Homo sapiens: one gene and its partners. The protein of the gene in region 1 purifies or fractionates together with the protein of each later gene. This does not show direct contact. Each region holds a gene or a part of one and is shown in the gene's direction. Other genes may lie near its edges.

Evidence for each region.
Region 2: the proteins of RAB27A (region 1) and CHM purify together in Homo sapiens (co-immunoprecipitation; 2 studies listed by BioGRID and IntAct, with this or other methods). This does not show direct contact.
Region 3: the proteins of RAB27A (region 1) and GBA1 purify together in Homo sapiens (co-immunoprecipitation; 2 studies listed by BioGRID and IntAct, with this or other methods). This does not show direct contact.

What each region holds. Positions count from the first base shown.
Region 1 is NC_000015.10:55,286,804-55,293,658, reverse strand, and holds the start of RAB27A (ras-related protein Rab-27A), read left to right. Parts: upstream 1-3,845; 5' UTR 3,846-3,943; exon of another isoform or gene 3,944-4,207; intron 4,208-6,750; exon of another isoform or gene 6,751-6,855. UniProt on the Homo sapiens protein: Small GTPase which cycles between active GTP-bound and inactive GDP-bound states. In its active state, binds to a variety of effector proteins to regulate homeostasis of late endocytic pathway, including endosomal positioning, maturation and secretion.
Region 2 is NC_000023.11:86,037,524-86,044,558, reverse strand, and holds part of CHM (rab proteins geranylgeranyltransferase component A 1), read left to right. Parts: intron 1-7,035. UniProt on the Homo sapiens protein: Substrate-binding subunit of the Rab geranylgeranyltransferase (GGTase) complex.
Region 3 is NC_000001.11:155,233,917-155,238,249, reverse strand, and holds the end of GBA1 (lysosomal acid glucosylceramidase isoform 1 precursor), read left to right. Parts: coding exon 1-116; intron 117-671; coding exon 672-909; intron 910-1,780; coding exon 1,781-2,005; intron 2,006-2,405; coding exon 2,406-2,569; intron 2,570-2,938; coding exon 2,939-3,055; intron 3,056-3,149; coding exon 3,150-3,255; 3' UTR 3,256-3,798; downstream 3,799-4,333. UniProt on the Homo sapiens protein: Glucosylceramidase that catalyzes, within the lysosomal compartment, the hydrolysis of glucosylceramides/GlcCers (such as beta-D-glucosyl-(1<->1')-N-acylsphing-4-enine) into free ceramides (such as N-acylsphing-4-enine) and glucose.

The sequences.
Region 1 (6,855 bases):
AGCGTGAGCCACCGCGCCTGGCCATGTCTTTTCATTTATTTAGATTTTCTTTTTTTTTCAGTAGTGGTTTGTGGTTTTCAATGTATAAATCCTGCACCTTCTTGGTTAAATTTATGCCTAGGTATTTTATTCTTTTTGATATTATTGTAAATGGAACTTTTAAAGTTTCCTTTTCAATTGTTCATTTCTAATACATTGAAATGCAACTGATTTTTATGTGTTGATCTAGTATCTTGCATCTTTGCTTATTTCATTTATTAGCACTAATAGATTTTTTATTTAGGATTTTCCATATATAATATTATGTAATTGGTTCCTTTTGTTGGAAAGGGATATTAAGAAATCAACATCCAGGTGCTAAGTGTACTCGTAGCTACTTTGATATAATTGCTTCTAGGACCTCTTAGCAGACAGAGCTAGATAATACATACATATACACATACATATATCTATATTTATTTATTAAAATCCATGAATTCTTACTGATTCCATCCACTTTAATTCTATTAGGAAAACTGGAGGCAGAACTCTCCATGTTGCAAGTAGCAGTGTCAGAAAAGCCCCAGTGTGGGAAGCAAGAGGTATACTGTGATCGATTCTGTGGCTGCAGTAAGAAGTGGCGTAGAGATGACTTTGAACTGACACACGAGATGTGTTCAGTGTACTTAGTTTCTGTAATAACACTCTCCTTGTTTTCTTCCTACCTCTCTGGATACTCTTTTTTTGGATTCCTTTTTGAACTTCCATTGCTCATGCCTTAAATGCTGGGTGTTCATCTGGGTTCTGTAACAAGCCTATTGCCCTCTCAGCTCACTTTCTAGATTAGCTCATTGATTCTAATGCCTTCCAGTACCTTTTGGGTAATAGCTACAGCACATGTTTTCTGTGCTTCAGATAGGCCTGTTTGACTACATACTAAACAGCTTCACTTGGATATTCTGTTGGTGCTAGTGTGTCAAAATGGAAATGTCCTAAACTCATCACTATGGCCTATTTCACCCTTCCTCCTGGTTGCAACTAGGTTTTCTTCCTGTTGCTTAATGGTTTCTTGTTGCCCAAACCAGAAACTGGGCATCCCCATGGACTACTGCCTCTCTTTCACACCCCTACATCCCAGTCCTCTTGATTCACTCTCCTAAATATGTCAAATATGTCCATTCATCTCCATCCTTATGGCCACTGCCGTAATCAGATCGCTATTATCCCTCACTTGGATTACAGCGTGCTAATTGACCTCTCAGACCCATTCTTAGAACCATTAAAAACTTGAGTTCTGAGTTTTAGGCCTGGCTGTGCCACTTATTAGCTGCATGATCTTGGTCAGACTGCTTAATCGCTTTAGGACTCAGTTTCCTCATCTGTAATACAGAGGTAAGAATAGTACCTACTTCATAAAGTAGTTGTAAGACACGTATGAGGTGATGTAGTCAAAACTATTAGCATATTGGCTGACTCATAGTAAATGATCAAGAAATGTTAGTTATGATCATGATCATCATTGCAGGGTTATTCACCGCACAGCCTCTGTTATTTCTCCATTTTCTTTTCTGATTGCTTTCAGTCTTTCAGCTTTTCTGAACCTCTTCCTGTTGCTCCAGTGTTGAATGCTATCTTTTGCTTCCAGGCCTTCCCTCTGCTCCATTTTCCTGGAATTCTCTTCTCCCTTGCCCCTTGCCCTCATTCATTCTAAGTTTATCCTTAACTTTCTCTTGATTTGGTGTCATTTATCTGTGCTCCAATAACACTCTTTAACTTCCTTTATTGAGGCTCTTATCTCACTACTGGAGTTGCCTACTTATTCGATGGTCTCTCAAGTAAGTCCTGACGTCAGGGACCAGTTTACCTTGTTTACTAATAGGGTGCCTGACTTGATGAATGAGTGAATGAATGGGTGATGAATGGGCCATAGCACCATCCTAGGTTTTCTGATCTCCTGTCTGGTATACTCCTGGTGAGAGCCTTGCCTGGCCACAGGAGTGGGGAAAGCTGAAGGCAGGCTTTCCCTGTGCCATATCAGCCATTAGCAATTACTACATTATTGGTTTCCCAGATTTTAGCTGATCAGTGATTCCCAGGACTATTCCTCTGGACATGAACATGAGGCTACCTTTTCCCTTTTTTTTTTTTTTTTTTTTTTTTTTTTTTTTTGAAACAGAGTCTCGCTCGGTCGCCCAGGCTGGAGTGCAGTGGCGCCATCTCGGCTCATTGCAACCTCCACCTCTCGGGTTCAAGCGATTCTCCTGCCCTCAGCCTCCTAAGTAGCTGAGACTACAGGCGCGTGCCACGACGCCCTGCTAATTTTTTGTATTTTTAGTAGAGACGGGGTTTCACCGTGTTAGCCAGGATGGTCTCGATCTCCTGACTTCGTGATCTGCCGGCCTCGGGCTCCCAAAGTGCTGGGATTACAGGCGTGAGCCACCTAACCCGGCCTTTTTCTCTCTTAACCTCACCAACAGTCTGATGGCCCTTCTCTCACACGGGAAGAGCTCTTGAAGTTATCAACCTGTTAGGACATTTGTTATCTCTAAACCCGAGTTTACTGTGTTATGTTTGCCTGGAAATGTTATATCAAATGTATGAAATTGCCAACTGTTTGTAATTTCATATGGTTCATCCTATATGTGATTTTGTAAATTGGACCCACCTGAGAAGCTAACTGCTGTAATGCCAACTGTGAGTAGCTACAGACTGGAAAGGTGATGGAGTTGACCGGGTGGGCCTGCGACAGCTGGAATTTGCGGTGGAGGTAGACACAAGTCAGCGAGACGGCTTAGAAGGCAGAAGGGAAGCTGAACTAAGGCTTCTCAACATTTTACTCTGCTTAGAAGTGGAAACATTTGGTTCAAAGGGCCTTTGCCTTAGACTCCATAGGGACAGGCCCAAGGGCTGCTGTTCACACCTCCTGGCCACTGAGAGGGATGAACTTGGCTGCCTCTGAGTGGGAACCACGAGGTCTGACCCCCTACGCAGTCCCAGGTTCACTACCCCGCAGGCCGGAGCGACACCGTTGGCGCTGGGAGAAGAGAGCCGCTGGGTGGCAGCAAAGGCGCGCAGGTTTCTTCCGACAGAGGCGGTTCCTTAACATACTGTAGTTTTCTTCTTTTTAAACTCATTGCTCTAACACTCTTAGAAATTTACAGTGGTTTTATATTCTTGAATTACACAGTGTGAGCAGAGACTCCGTTTGCCATTTCCTCCCGGAATTACATTGATTTTTTTCCTGCGAAATTTTTTACTTATTTTTCTCCCATGTTATTTCCAGGAATCCTGGGCATTCCCTTGCCCCGGAAACGCCGTGTCCAGGCCGACCTAAGCCAGGAGCCGCAGGGGCGGGAAGCCGGGGGCAGGGCCGGGCCTGGGACGCCGCCTCAGGAGCCGCGCGGACTCGGGAACCTCGGGCGGGGCCGGCGTGAGTACGCCCGGCACCTCCGGCTGCTACGGTGGCGACCGCGAACTGATGCCGTGGAAAACACCCTTAGAACATGGCTTTTTGGGGAGGTGAATAGGGGAGAGTCCCCAAACGACACCTCGCCGCGCACCGGTCCTTGGTGCAGTTTGTAAATGTCCCTCCTGTGTCCCAAAACGAAAACACTCCTATATTTTGTAGCGCCTTCCAGAATGGGGCAGCGGAAACTAGTGTTGGGACAAAGGAGGCGAGCGGGGCCTTTTCGGGGCTCACAGAGGACCCCTCGGAGGCGCGGCCGCCGGGGAGAGCGCGACAGCACCCCGCCCCCCGCCAGCCGGGCGGGGGCCGCTCCCGAGGTGACAGGAGAAGGCGGGAGGTGGAGGAGAGAAGGTCCCGCCCCACCTCGCTCTCCTTTACGGGAAGTGATGTGGGGCCAGGCGGAAAATACCCGCCAACGACCCAAAAAAGGCCGGCGGCGGGTGGACGCGGCGCGCGAGGACCCGAGCCAGGCGGGGACAGGACGGCGGGGCGAGCCAGGTGAGGGGGCCTGAGGAGCGGGAGGCGCGCGGCGGGTCCGGTCCCTCCGGGAGGGCCGAGCGAGGCGTCCCCCTGGGGCCGTCCTAGGGCTGGGGTCCGAGTGCGCCGCCCTTCCTCCCCGCCTCCAGGCGCCCGAGCCCGCCTGAAGAGTGGCTTCTCTCCCAGGCCCTCAGCGCAGACCCCAGTGATGACAACTGCCTGGTGCTGGCCAGGTGCGGTCCCAGGTCCGGCCAGGGTCTCAGATCGCCTCCGGGTTGCATCCAGGTGGGAGGATGCCCATCAGGGGTAGGAAACTTTCCAGGAGGGAAAGGAGGAAAGTCCCCGACCTCCCGCACGCCCCCCGGTTCATTCCTCCCTCTTTTGCTTTCAGTTTAACTGTTTAACCTGGTTGCCCTCCGGTTGGTGAGGGTCTGGACTGCAGACTAGCTGCGAGGGAGGGGCTCTCTCTTCTCCTGTCAGTTAGACTGAAAACTACCTGGCAGCCAGGCCCTCCGGTCGGGACTGGTGGTGGTGCAGATATGATGACAGGCTTTGGTAACTATTGCCAAAGCCTGTCTCTGTCCCAATAGATCACCAGTTCAGCAAAGTCAGGCCTGAAGCGAAGGGAGTCTTGTGAGCCCTGGACTGAGGAGCCTTCCCAGCCTTTCCGCTCCTGCTGGCCACCTGGGCCCACATGGCCTCAGGGTCTTCTGCCACAGGGTCCTTACCCCTACAGCTTAACAGCTGTTCTTTCCTTCTGGATGGATTCTCACATTTTATGGTTGGTTGATCAGTCAGATGTTGGAATTGGGGGTAGAGGGATTATAGAGTTGTGTGTGCTATTTAAGTTTTCTGTAATCATTGCTAATTAAATTTGTTGATTCTCCACTCACTGTTCTTGTTCTTTTTTTTTTTTCGGCCTTAAAAACTTGCTTTAGAGGGAAAATACAATCTGGAAAACAGTTTCTGCAGATGGTTAGAAGTGAAGAAAGGTTAATATAATGCTGAAGGAACTTGACTGAGGATCATTATTTTCTGTATTTTATGTTGGTTTATGTTGTTTTATGTTTTCATTCCTACTTTTTTCTTCCTTCCTTTCTACCATTCTCTCTTCCTCCCTCCCTCCCTTTTTTCTTCCTTCCTTAATTTCTGTGACGTGCCTTGATTTTTAATTTCGTTGAAGTATATTTAATCTATTTTTCCTTTTTTTTCTTTTGAGACAGAGTCTCACTCTGTCGCCCAGGTAGGAATGCGGTGGCATGATCTTGGCTCACAGCAACCTCCGCTTCCTGGGTTGAAGTGATTCTTTTGCTTCAGACTCCAGAGTAGCTGGAATTACAGGTGTGTGCTACCATGCTTGGCTAATTTTTGTATTTTTAGTAGAGGCGGGGTTTTGCTATGTTGGCCAGGCTGGTCTTGAACTCCTGACCTCAAGTGATCAACCTGCGTCAGCCTCCCAAAGTGCTGGGATTATAGGCTTGAGCCACTGCACCGAGCCTATTTTTCCTTTTGTTGTTTGTGCTTTTGATGTCAAAGTTAAGAAAACATTGTCAAATTCAAGATCATGAAGATTTATACTTATGTTTTCTTCTAAAAGTTTTATAGTTTTTAGCTCTTACATTTCATTCTTTGACCCATTTTAAGTTAATTTTTAAATATGGTGTGAGGCAGGGGGTCTGACTTCAACTTTTTGCATGTGGATATCCAGTTCTTTCAGCACCATTTGTTTAAAAGACTGTTCCTCTTTGAATAGTTTTGGCACCTCTGTTGAGATAAATTGACCATGAATGTAAAGGTTTATTTCTGGACTGTCAGTTCTATTCCATTGATCTGTATGTCTGTCCTCAGGCTAGTATCATACTACCTTGATTATTGTAGCTACATAGTGTTTTGAAATCAGGATATGTGAGTCCTCCAACCTTGTTCTTTTTCAAGATTGTTTTGACTATCCAGTCCCTTGAATTTCCATATGAATTTTTTTTTTTTTTCGAGATGGAGTTTTGCTCTTATTTACCAGGCTGGAGTGCAATGGCACGATCTCAGCTCACTGCAACCTCCGCCTCCCTGGTTCAAGTGATTCTCCTGCCTCATCCTCCTGAGTAGCTGGGATTACGGGCATGTGCCACCATGCCTGGCTAATTTTATATTTTTAGTAGAGACAGGGTTTCTCCATGTTGGTCAGGCTGGTCTCGGACTCCCGATCTCAGGTGATCTGTCTGCCTCAGCCTCCCAAAGTGCTGTGATCATAGGCATGAGCCACCATGCCTGGCCTTCCACATGAAATTTAAAGTCAGCTTCTCAATTTCTATTGTTTTGGTTCTAAAATAGATGTAAGGGTTTTAAAGTGAGCAACAATCTCTAGGAGCCAGATTTTTGAGTTTTCTCTCCCAAAGCTGCTTTTCCCCTAGTCTTCTCCATCTTAGTGAATGGCAACTTCACTCTTCCAGATGCTCACACCAAACACCCTGAAATCACTCTTGATTCTTTCTCTTATACCCCACATTAAATTCCTCAGCAGGCCGGGTGCGGTGGCTCACGCCTGTAATCGCAGCACTTTGGGAGGCCGAGACAGGTGGATCACGTGAGGTCAGGAGTTCAAGACCAGGCTGGCCAACATGGTGAAGCCCTGTATCTACTAAAAATACAAAAATTAGCGGGGCGTGGTGGTGGGTGCCTGTAATCACAGCTACTCAGGAGGCTGAGGCAGGAGAATCGCTTGAACCCAGGAGGCGGAGGTTGCAGTGAGCTAAGATCGTGCCATTGCACTCCAGCCTGGGCGACAGAGTGTGAGTCCGTCTCAAAAAAAAAAAAAAAAAAAAAAAAAGAATACATCTAGGATGATAACCATTTCTCACCACTTCTGCTGCTTCCACCAAGTTCTATCATCTCTGTCACCTGGATTACTGCAAAAGCCTTCTGAAGGGCTTCCCTGC
Region 2 (7,035 bases), on another chromosome or scaffold:
AGCCAAGAACTCAACAGAAGAGCAGTCAAGATGGAAGTTATAAGATCTATATGATAATATTGACATGCTTCATACATAGGGGAATCCCTGAGATCATCACTTAGAACATATTCATCCTCATTTTAAAAATAATTCTAGCAAGCTCAGCATATTAGAACCACCCCCTTAGAAGATACAAGGAATGTTATCAACTTCTGCAAAGACTATGTTTGGTGGGGTTGCTATTAGACATACAAATGACAGTTTGTATAGGAAAGGGAAGAGAAAAACACCTAAAATGCAAACTTACATCAAACATCACAAAGGCCTGATAACATTTAGTGTAGTGACAAATACTCATTTTTCAGGTCATTCAACCCACATTTACTGAGAACCTAGTCCCTTCCCTTGTGAAGTTTACTGTATTGCCTATTCTCAGGAACGTTCTGGCCTTCCTAACAGTCATATCCCCAAAGCTGTTCTTAAGACAATGTAGGCTTTTCATTGCATCCTTCTTTCTTTTTGAAGACCATGTAGACATTCAGCCTGCATTTTTTCTTTTTAAAAGCACACTGCTCACATCTTTTGGAGTTCTTCCCCTAAGATGGGCTGCAGAGTAGGTTAGCTTAATTTTTCTACTGCATAGGATAAACACATATATTCTTTTGATTTAAGAGTTTTATTGTTAGCCAAGCATGGTGGCACGGGCCTGTAATCCCCATTACTCTATAGGCTAAGGCACAGGCATCCCTTGATCCTGGAAGGCGGAGGTTGCAGTGAGCTTAGATGGCACCACTGCACTCTAGTCAGAGAAACAGAGTGAGACTGTCTCAAAAAAAAAAAAAAGTTTCATTGGCCAGGTGCAGTGGCTCAGGCCTGTAATCCCAGCACTTGGGGAAGCCGAGGCAGGTGGATTGCTTGAGCTCAGGAGTTTGAAACCTCAGCCTCCCAAGTAGCTGAAATGGGTGACACAGCAAAACTGTATTTCTACAAAAAAAATACAAAAATTAATTGGGTATGGTGACACGTGCCTGTAGTCCCAGCTACTTGGAAGGCTGAGGTGGGAGGATTGCCTGAAACTGGGAGTTTGAGGCTGCAGTGAGCTATAGTTGTGTCACTGCACTTCAGCCTGGGCAACAGAGCAAGACCCTATCTCAAAAAAAAAAAAAAGTTTTATTGCTAAAGATTATGGGGAAAGAGAAGGGATAGCAAAGATAAACATGGAAATTATAAGGAGTACTGCCCCTAAATCCTGATTATCTTGCTAGATAGTGTTTAGCACCATACAGTAGTAGATGTGGCAGCATGGTGTATGATAATCACATGACCATCCTATTGTGTGATTTTGGGAAAATTACAGAATTTCTTGTGACATCATTTAGTTCATCTGTAAAGTGAGAAATTTCAATAGATGATCTCCAAGGTAGGGATCTACCAGCCCTAAAATTACCATTGTATATATCTATTTATGACACCATGTCCTTGAGAAAAGGCTAAATTCTGTTCTGTGTAGTCTTTTTAAGAAGGAAAGTCAGTGTTTCATATACTTCAGAAATTTTCCTATAAAAATGGCTGATAGGGTTTAGATATTTGTCCTGCCCAAATCTCATGTTGAAATGTTATCCTCGTTGTCGGAGGTGGGGCCTGATGGGATGTGTTTGGGTCATGGGAGTGGATCCCTCATGGCTTGGTACTCTTCTTGTAATAGTGAATTCGTTCTTGCAGGATCTGGTGGTTTATTTTTTAATTTTTTTTTTGAGACAGGGTCTTGCTCTGTCACCCTAGTTGGAGTGCAGTGGCACAATCATGGCCCACTGCAGCCTTAACCTCCTGGGCCCAAGCAATCCTCCCACCTCAGACTCCTGAGTAGCTGAGATTACAGACATGCATCACCATGCCTGGCTAATTTTTTTTTTTTTATTTTTGTAGAGATGGGGTCTGCCTATGTTGCCCAGGCTGGTTTTGCACTTCTGAACTCAAGCAATCTACCTGCCTTGGTGGCCCAAATTGCTGGGATTACAGATGGGAGCCACTGTGCCTGGTCGACTGGTTGTTTAAAAGTGTGTGGCATCTCCCCACACTTGCTTGCCTTGCCTCTCACCAAGGGAGATGCCTGCTTCCCCTTTGCCTTCTGCTATGACTAAAAGCTCCCTCAGGCCTCCCTAGAAGCCGAGCAGATGCCTGTACCATGCTTGTACAGCCTGCAGAACCCTGAGCCAATTAAACCTCTTTTCTTTATAAATTACCCAGTTTCAGGCATTCCTTTATGGCAACACAGGAACAGCCTAATACAGTGACTGATTAGAAAAGGCATTTTCTTAAAAATGATAGGCTGCTTTTTTCAGAAAAGGTCACTTAAGTAGCCTTTCCTTGATGTTGGGATGTTCCAGTCCCATTCCTTGATGTTGGTGAATTTAAACATTAAGGTAGTTAACCTTGACTGGCAGCTCATTGACTTATGATGATGTTGGAATAGCATCACTTCTGTAAGCCTTGGGGGATAGTAATATTGCAGGAGGAGTTGTGAAAACTGATATTTACCAAATATCTGTTTGTGCCAGCCTTAACACAAGTGATTTCCTATATTTCTAACTTAATCTTCTCCCAGGATGCCTGAATGTGGTTCTCACATCACAGGATGTCCATAGTCCTCCCTGTGTACTTCCAAAATCTTCACATCTATTGTCTACAGTGGATTTTTAAAAATTGTAAGATGCCACCTATTAGTGGATCATGGAGTGAATTCCAGCATTATAAAAATGAGGTAGAATATATCAGAATGCATGTAGTAAGGATGAATGTTGTTTTTTATATATATATGTATATATATATATATATATATATATATATATACACACACACCATATATATAACATATATATATATATACATAAACACACATACACACATATGTTTTTGGGGAGGGCAGGTTCAAAAAATTTAAAGCATAGAGTATATTGATCAGCTGAATGACATAGTGAGTAGGAGTGAAATGGTATTTCAAAAGTCCTTTCTTTGTTGTCTTCTCTTTTGTTCACCAGCTTGCATTATTTATCATTTGTTTTCCTCATAGTTTTTGGAACAGATTTAGTATCGGTCTTATTTGAGGTATAGTATGAAACACTCCGTTGTCAGCGTAAGAGATGCTATAGGAGTGAAAGATAGCCTGCAGATTTTGCTGTTCTGAAAAATGCTTTGCACTTCTTCAGGCATTTATTGATGGAAAAGTATGTTTTTGTTTGCTTCCAATACCTAGAAAAGTAAAGAGTTATCTAACTCTGGAGAAGACTCTCTGGGAGATGCTTACCCTTCTCTGTAAATCATGAATTTGAGCCAATACCTCAGAGAGAGCCACATCTGTTGCCATAATTTCCTCTGCAGCATCATTTTCATCTCCCATGCCTCATGTCATTTTTCTCATTTTCTCCAGTGTTTTCATGATGTTTTGGATAACAGGCTACAGTAATTAAATTCAAATATGGCAGCCCACCATTACATTCTCATGTTTAACATAAAATCCCAATGCACAGAAACAATTATAATTCCATATAATTGACCTGTTAACTCATGCTAAATCATCTGCTATTCAGTCTCAGTGCATTCTTTAACTAAAAAGTTAGTCTGTGCCTGTTCTGTATATAAATATATTTAAAAGTAAAATAGGCTAAAAATCACTGTTGGTGCTCATTGGAAACATTTTGGGGGCGTTTAGTTGTGGCCAGCAAAATAGGGATACATTGAAAGGTTGATGTTTTGTTTTTGCTTTTCTAATAATTTCATTTAAGGTTTGGTGTAAAAAGAGTTGATAATTTATCACAGATACTGCTTTTTTAGAGCATGATTATGAGAGCTAGCATGTTATCATATTGAGGGTGTTTTTGAAAAGAACAGTTTGCAAACAGACAGGAGAAGAGACCAGAGGCAGCTTGGCCAGTATGGTGCTTAAATAAGTGTTTCATCTCATACTGGATTTTATCAGGAGCTGAAGTTGGTAATGTATTCCTTGACTGATTTGGTTTTTATCACATTTTAAAAAGTACTGGTGAAGCAGGATATTTTCCTGACCCCTTCATGGGACTTGTGAAGGGAGCACCCTGTTTACTCAGCCCACCGCTTTCAACTCCTCATAGGAGGGAGCACGTGAGTGAACAAGGCAGGAACTGGAATACATGAGTGCTGGAGTCAGCCTGCCGCTCTTGTGCCAGGAGGAATGAACTCCACTCACTCGGACCTGCTGTGTTTCACCCCTCACAAGAGGGGATGTGCAGTTGAGTGGGTGCAGGAGCCGGGGCGAGTGCTTTTGGGCACTGGCAGGAGTCAACTCTGTGCTGGCCCTGTGGTAGCATCTCCGGGGGTGGTGCCTGCAACCCCTGAAGCTCCAGAGGGAATGTTACAGTGCTCTTTTAGCTCTGCTGTCCGCAGACGGCTTAAGGGTTAACAGCTCAGTGGGCCCTCTGCCTTTTTGTGTTAATCGGCTGCCTTCTACCAGTGAGGGCAAAGGGCAAGTGTGACAGCCTTTTTGTGTCCACACTCATCGTTCCCGAGCTCTTGTCCGGCATCCAGGAGAAATGAGGTCACATGAATGAATTGAAGGATGGTAAATGTAGGGGATCTTATTGCTGATGGAGATGGCTCTTAGTGGGAAGGGGAGCTGCAAAGGGCAGGAAGGTAGTCTTCCCCTGAATGCCAGCTGTCTCTGGCCAGATTCTTCTTCGAAGTTACGCTGTCAAGGTGTCCCTCTGAAGTCGAGCCACTTCTCTCTGATGTCCAGCTGTAGTCTCTAATGTCCAACTGCTTCTCTTCTCTCTGCTGGCTGAGCCTGGGGTTTTTATGTACACAGGATGGGGTGTGGGGTGGGCCGTAAGTGGTTTCGGAAAAGGCAACATTCGCACGGGAAAATGGGGATATAAGTTCTCACTTTGCGTCATGGTTTCAGGCTTGAGGGTGGGGTTTTCTCAGGGACCTGCCCTTTTCTGCCTAGAATTTCCCTGCCTCCTGTCCCTGTCACTCACTAACTTCTACTCTTTCTTTTGAGTATTCTCACCTGTCTTTTTTTTTTTTTTTTTTTTGGTCTAGGCCAGTGTTCTCATTGAGTTATTATGGCTACTAGTTAATGGTGGTTTTAATCATTTTATATTGCTTTGAAATGTTTTGAATCATGTTTCTGTGATCTGACTTTGCACATTTGTTAAACTAGTCTTATTTATGTGGATTTAAAATCATCATGAGAAAATTTACACAAGCTAAAGTATAGAGAAAAAGTTTTACACATGGATATGAGGCATATTAAGAAGATGCTGAGCTGTGAGTTCAAATCCTTATTTTCTACACCTGTGTTACTTTGGTTTAAGCTATGTAAGCAAAATCAATGATAATTAGAAAATTGTTTTTAGTACCTACAACACACTGTCAAACACATGAAAAATATTGTCTAACATTTGTTATATGCCAAGCACGGTGATAAGCCCCTACAATGCATTGTCTCATTTTCACAGTAACCCTGCAGTAGATACTATATCATCTCCATTTTTCAAATGTGAAGCCTGAGGCTCAGCTAAGTTTGATGTAGGTGAAACAGTTAAGACGAAAGTTTTTCTGACTAAGGTTGAGGTATTAGATTAAGTTTGCTAGAATCTTTCAATTGAAAAAATAGCTCATAGTATCAAGATGAGATTATTTTAACCTGGGTTTGTGGTTGGCAGTTGTTTTATTTTGGAGAGTTATCATTGTTGACATTAAAATCCTGATTCCAGCAGTAACCTCATGATGTCAGCTTCTTATTATTGACAGCATCATGACATCTGTGTCAGCTTGCAAACCTTCTTTTGATGAAGGTGAACGGAATGACCTGGTTGTGTTTATCCCTTAAAACTGAAGAGAGAATCAACCACTAAAGCAATGGCCAGAAATGGGATCAGAGATTACAGTTACATTTTAAGAAATGATTTGCTTCAGTAGGAATTCTTCATTGATCCTGTAAACCAAAATAATTTAGATTACCAAATTAATTTAGAAAGTTTATTTTACCAAGGTTAAGGATGCACCTGTGGCACAGCCTCAGGTCCTGATGACGTGCCCCAGGCGGTAGGGGCACAGCTTGATTTTACATGTTTTAGGGAGACATGAAACATTAATCAACGTTTGTAAGATGTATAATTCATTGGTTCCATCAGGAAAGGCCAGACAACTCGAAGTGGGGAGGAGGCTTCTGGGTCATAGTTAGTTAAGAGACAAATGAGGAATAGTCACTTATGCCTTAGTCTGTAGTGAAACAGTAGGGCGGAGGAAGCCATCAGATACGCATTTGTCTCATGGGAACAGAGGAATGACTTTGAGTTCTGCCTGTCCTTTGGTTGTCCACAAGGAATTTCCTTATGGGCAAATTGTGAGGGAGGTATGTAGCTTTTTAAAAATCTTTGTAGTGATCTTATTTAGGAATAGAAAGGGAGAGAGGTTTGCCCAACACAATTCCCAACTTGACTTTTCCTTTTGGTTTAGTGATTTTGGGGAGATTTGTTTTCCTTTCACAATCCCAAGGTACATAATTTCCCACTGAAATACTTGTGCATGTGCTGGGGTTTGCCATTTTGTGTCTTTTTTAGTGTTCTTCCAAATTAAATTTTCAAGATCAAATATGGGACTCATTGTCCTGTTTATGGAGCTTTTTTTCTTTTGGTTGACTATTCTTTTGTTTCCTACAGTCTTCAACAACTGTTAGTGCTTACAATGGATACATCATGCATCTTAATTGATAGGATGGATATGATAATACCTTTTTTGGTCCAAGGTCCCGCTCATTAAAAAAAATAGTTTATAAAGCTGAAAAGTTTTTATTTCTATTTTTTGTAAAATGATTTTCATGATAGGATTTTATATAAAGGGGAAGGGTTTTTTGTATCATTTTTATAACATTTTTGAAATGAATACTTATTCTCTTTCATCATCTATTTTAGACTCACAGTTTTATGAGTAATGCAGTAAAGGTCATGTGGCACATTAGTAAAATATGTTCTGAACACAGAAACTATTCTCCTTATCACAAATTAAATTTTATGT
Region 3 (4,333 bases), on another chromosome or scaffold:
AGCCCCTGGACATCACCCACTTGGCTCAAGACCAATGGAGCGGTGAATGGGAAGGGGTCACTCAAGGGACAGCCCGGAGACATCTACCACCAGACCTGGGCCAGATACTTTGTGAAGTAAGGGATCAGCAAGGATGTGGGATCAGGACTGGCCTCCCATTTAGCCATGCTGATCTGTGTCCCAACCCTCAACCTAGTTCCACTTCCAGATCTGCCTGTCCTCAGCTCACCTTTCTACCTTCTGGGCCTTTCAGCCTTGGGCCTGTCAATCTTGCCCACTCCATCAGGCTTCCTGTTCTCTCGGTCTGGCCCACTTTCTTTTTATTTTTCTTCTTTTTTTTTTTTTTGAGAAGGAGTCTCTCTCTCTGTCACCCAGGCTGGAGTGCTGTGGCGCCATCTTCACTCACTGTAACCTCTGCCTCCTGAGTTCAAGCAATTCTCCTGCCTCAGCCTTCCAAGTAGCTGGGATTATAGGCGCCTGCCACCAGGCCCAGCTGATTTTTCTATTTTTAGTAGAGACGGGGTTTCGCCAGGCTGTTCTCGAACTCCTGAACTCAAGTGATCCACCTGCCTCGGCTTCCCAAAGTGCTGGGATTACAGGTGTGAGCCACCACACCCAGCTGGTCTGGTCCACTTTCTTGGCCGGATCATTCATGACCTTTCTCTTGCCAGGTTCCTGGATGCCTATGCTGAGCACAAGTTACAGTTCTGGGCAGTGACAGCTGAAAATGAGCCTTCTGCTGGGCTGTTGAGTGGATACCCCTTCCAGTGCCTGGGCTTCACCCCTGAACATCAGCGAGACTTCATTGCCCGTGACCTAGGTCCTACCCTCGCCAACAGTACTCACCACAATGTCCGCCTACTCATGCTGGATGACCAACGCTTGCTGCTGCCCCACTGGGCAAAGGTGGTAAGGCCTGGACCTCCATGGTGCTCCAGTGACCTTCAAATCCAGCATCCAAATGACTGGCTCCCAAACTTAGAGCGATTTCTCTACCCAACTATGGATTCCTAGAGCACCATTCCCCTGGACCTCCAGGGTGCCATGGATCCCACAGTTGTCGCTTGAAACCTTTCTAGGGGCTGGGCGAGGTGGCTCACTCATGCAAACCCAGCACTTTGGGAAGCCGAGGCGGGTGATCACCTGAGGTCAGGAGTTTAAGACCACCCTGGCCAACGTGTTGAAACCCTGTGTCTACTAAAATACAAAAAAAAAAAATTATCTGGGCATGATGGTGGGTGTCTGTAATCCCAGCTACTCAGGAGGCTGAGAAGGGAGAATCAGTTGAACCCGGGAGATGGTGGTTGCGGTGAGCCGAGATCGCGCCACTGCACTCCAGCCTGGGAGGCTGAGCGAGACTCCATCTCGAAACAAAACAAAACAAAACTATCTAGGCTGGGGGTGGTGGTTCATGTATGTATGTGTATATACATATATATGTGTTTATATGTATATATATATACACACACACACATACATACACACACATACACACACAAATTAGCTGGGTGTGGCACCCGTGTAGTCCCAGCTACTCAGGAGGCTAATGTGGGAGGATCAGTTGACCCTAGGAAGTCAAGGCTGCAGTGAGTCGTGATTGCGCCACTGTACTCCAGCCCGAGTGACAGAGTGACATCCTGTCTCAAAAACAAAAAAAAATCTCCCCAAACCTCTCTAGTTGCATTCTTCCCGTCACCCAACTCCAGGATTCCTACAACAGGAACTAGAAGTTCCAGAAGCCTGTGTGCAAGGTCCAGGATCAGTTGCTCTTCCTTTGCAGGTACTGACAGACCCAGAAGCAGCTAAATATGTTCATGGCATTGCTGTACATTGGTACCTGGACTTTCTGGCTCCAGCCAAAGCCACCCTAGGGGAGACACACCGCCTGTTCCCCAACACCATGCTCTTTGCCTCAGAGGCCTGTGTGGGCTCCAAGTTCTGGGAGCAGAGTGTGCGGCTAGGCTCCTGGGATCGAGGGATGCAGTACAGCCACAGCATCATCACGGTAAGCCACCCCAGTCTCCCTTCCTGCAAAGCAGACCTCAGACCTCTTACTAGTTTCACCAAAGACTGACAGAAGCCCTTCCTGTCCAGCTTTCCCCAGCTAGCCTGCCCTTTTGAGCAACTCTGGGGAACCATGATTCCCTATCTTCCCTTTCCTTCACAGGTCTGCACACCTCATTGCCCCTTTTGCAACTACTGAGGCACTTGCAGCTGCCTCAGACTTCTCAGCTCCCCTTGAGATGCCTGGATCTTCACACCCCCAACTCCTTAGCTACTAAGGAATGTGCCCCTCACAGGGCTGACCTACCCACAGCTGCCTCTCCCACATGTGACCCTTACCTACACTCTCTGGGGACCCCCAGTGTTGCGCCTTTGTCTCTTTGCCTTTGTCCTTACCCTAGAACCTCCTGTACCATGTGGTCGGCTGGACCGACTGGAACCTTGCCCTGAACCCCGAAGGAGGACCCAATTGGGTGCGTAACTTTGTCGACAGTCCCATCATTGTAGACATCACCAAGGACACGTTTTACAAACAGCCCATGTTCTACCACCTTGGCCACTTCAGGTGAGTGGAGGGCGGGCACCCCCATTCCATACCAGGCCTATCATCTCCTACATCGGATGGCTTACATCACTCTACACCACGAGGGAGCAGGAAGGTGTTCAGGGTGGAACCTCGGAAGAGGCACACCCATCCCCTTTTGCACCATGGAGGCAGGAAGTGACTAGGTAGCAACAGAAAACCCCAATGCCTGAGGCTGGACTGCGATGCAGAAAAGCAGGGTCAGTGCCCAGCAGCATGGCTCCAGGCCTAGAGAGCCAGGGCAGAGCCTCTGCAGGAGTTATGGGGTGGGTCCGTGGGTGGGTGACTTCTTAGATGAGGGTTTCATGGGAGGTACCCCGAGGGACTCTGACCATCTGTTCCCACATTCAGCAAGTTCATTCCTGAGGGCTCCCAGAGAGTGGGGCTGGTTGCCAGTCAGAAGAACGACCTGGACGCAGTGGCACTGATGCATCCCGATGGCTCTGCTGTTGTGGTCGTGCTAAACCGGTGAGGGCAATGGTGAGGTCTGGGAAGTGGGCTGAAGACAGCGTTGGGGGCCTTGGCAGGATCACACTCTCAGCTTCTCCTCCCTGCTCCCTAGCTCCTCTAAGGATGTGCCTCTTACCATCAAGGATCCTGCTGTGGGCTTCCTGGAGACAATCTCACCTGGCTACTCCATTCACACCTACCTGTGGCGTCGCCAGTGATGGAGCAGATACTCAAGGAGGCACTGGGCTCAGCCTGGGCATTAAAGGGACAGAGTCAGCTCACACGCTGTCTGTGACTAAAGAGGGCACAGCAGGGCCAGTGTGAGCTTACAGCGACGTAAGCCCAGGGGCAATGGTTTGGGTGACTCACTTTCCCCTCTAGGTGGTGCCAGGGGCTGGAGGCCCCTAGAAAAAGATCAGTAAGCCCCAGTGTCCCCCCAGCCCCCATGCTTATGTGAACATGCGCTGTGTGCTGCTTGCTTTGGAAACTGGGCCTGGGTCCAGGCCTAGGGTGAGCTCACTGTCCGTACAAACACAAGATCAGGGCTGAGGGTAAGGAAAAGAAGAGACTAGGAAAGCTGGGCCCAAAACTGGAGACTGTTTGTCTTTCCTGGAGATGCAGAACTGGGCCCGTGGAGCAGCAGTGTCAGCATCAGGGCGGAAGCCTTAAAGCAGCAGCGGGTGTGCCCAGGCACCCAGATGATTCCTATGGCACCAGCCAGGAAAAATGGCAGCTCTTAAAGGAGAAAATGTTTGAGCCCAGTCAGTGTGAGTGGCTTTATTCTGGGTGGCAGCACCCCGTGTCCGGCTGTACCAACAACGAGGAGGCACGGGGGCCTCTGGAATGCATGAGAGTAGAAAAACCAGTCTTGGGAGCGTGAGGACAAATCATTCCTCTTCATCCTCCTCAGCCATGCCCAGGGTCCGGGTGCCTGGGGCCCGAGCAGGCGTTGCCCGCTGGATGGAGACAATGCCGCTGAGCAAGGCGTAGCCCACCATGGCTGCCAGTCCTGCCAGCACAGATAGGATCTGGTTCCGGCGCCGGTATGGCTCCTCCTCAGTCTCTGGGCCTGCTGGTGTCTGGCGTTGCGGTGGTACCTCAGCTGAGGGTCAAGGAAGGAAGGTGTGTTAGGAGAACTAGTTCTTGGATCCCTGCCCACTCTCCCCAGGGCTGCCCCTCCCATCTGCCCCTTACCTCCATCCCAGGGGAAGTAGAGACTGAGAATGTGGGTACAATAGGCACAGAGGTTGTGCAGCCCACGCAGGTGGACCTGCAGCTTCCCACTGGGCAGCTTTG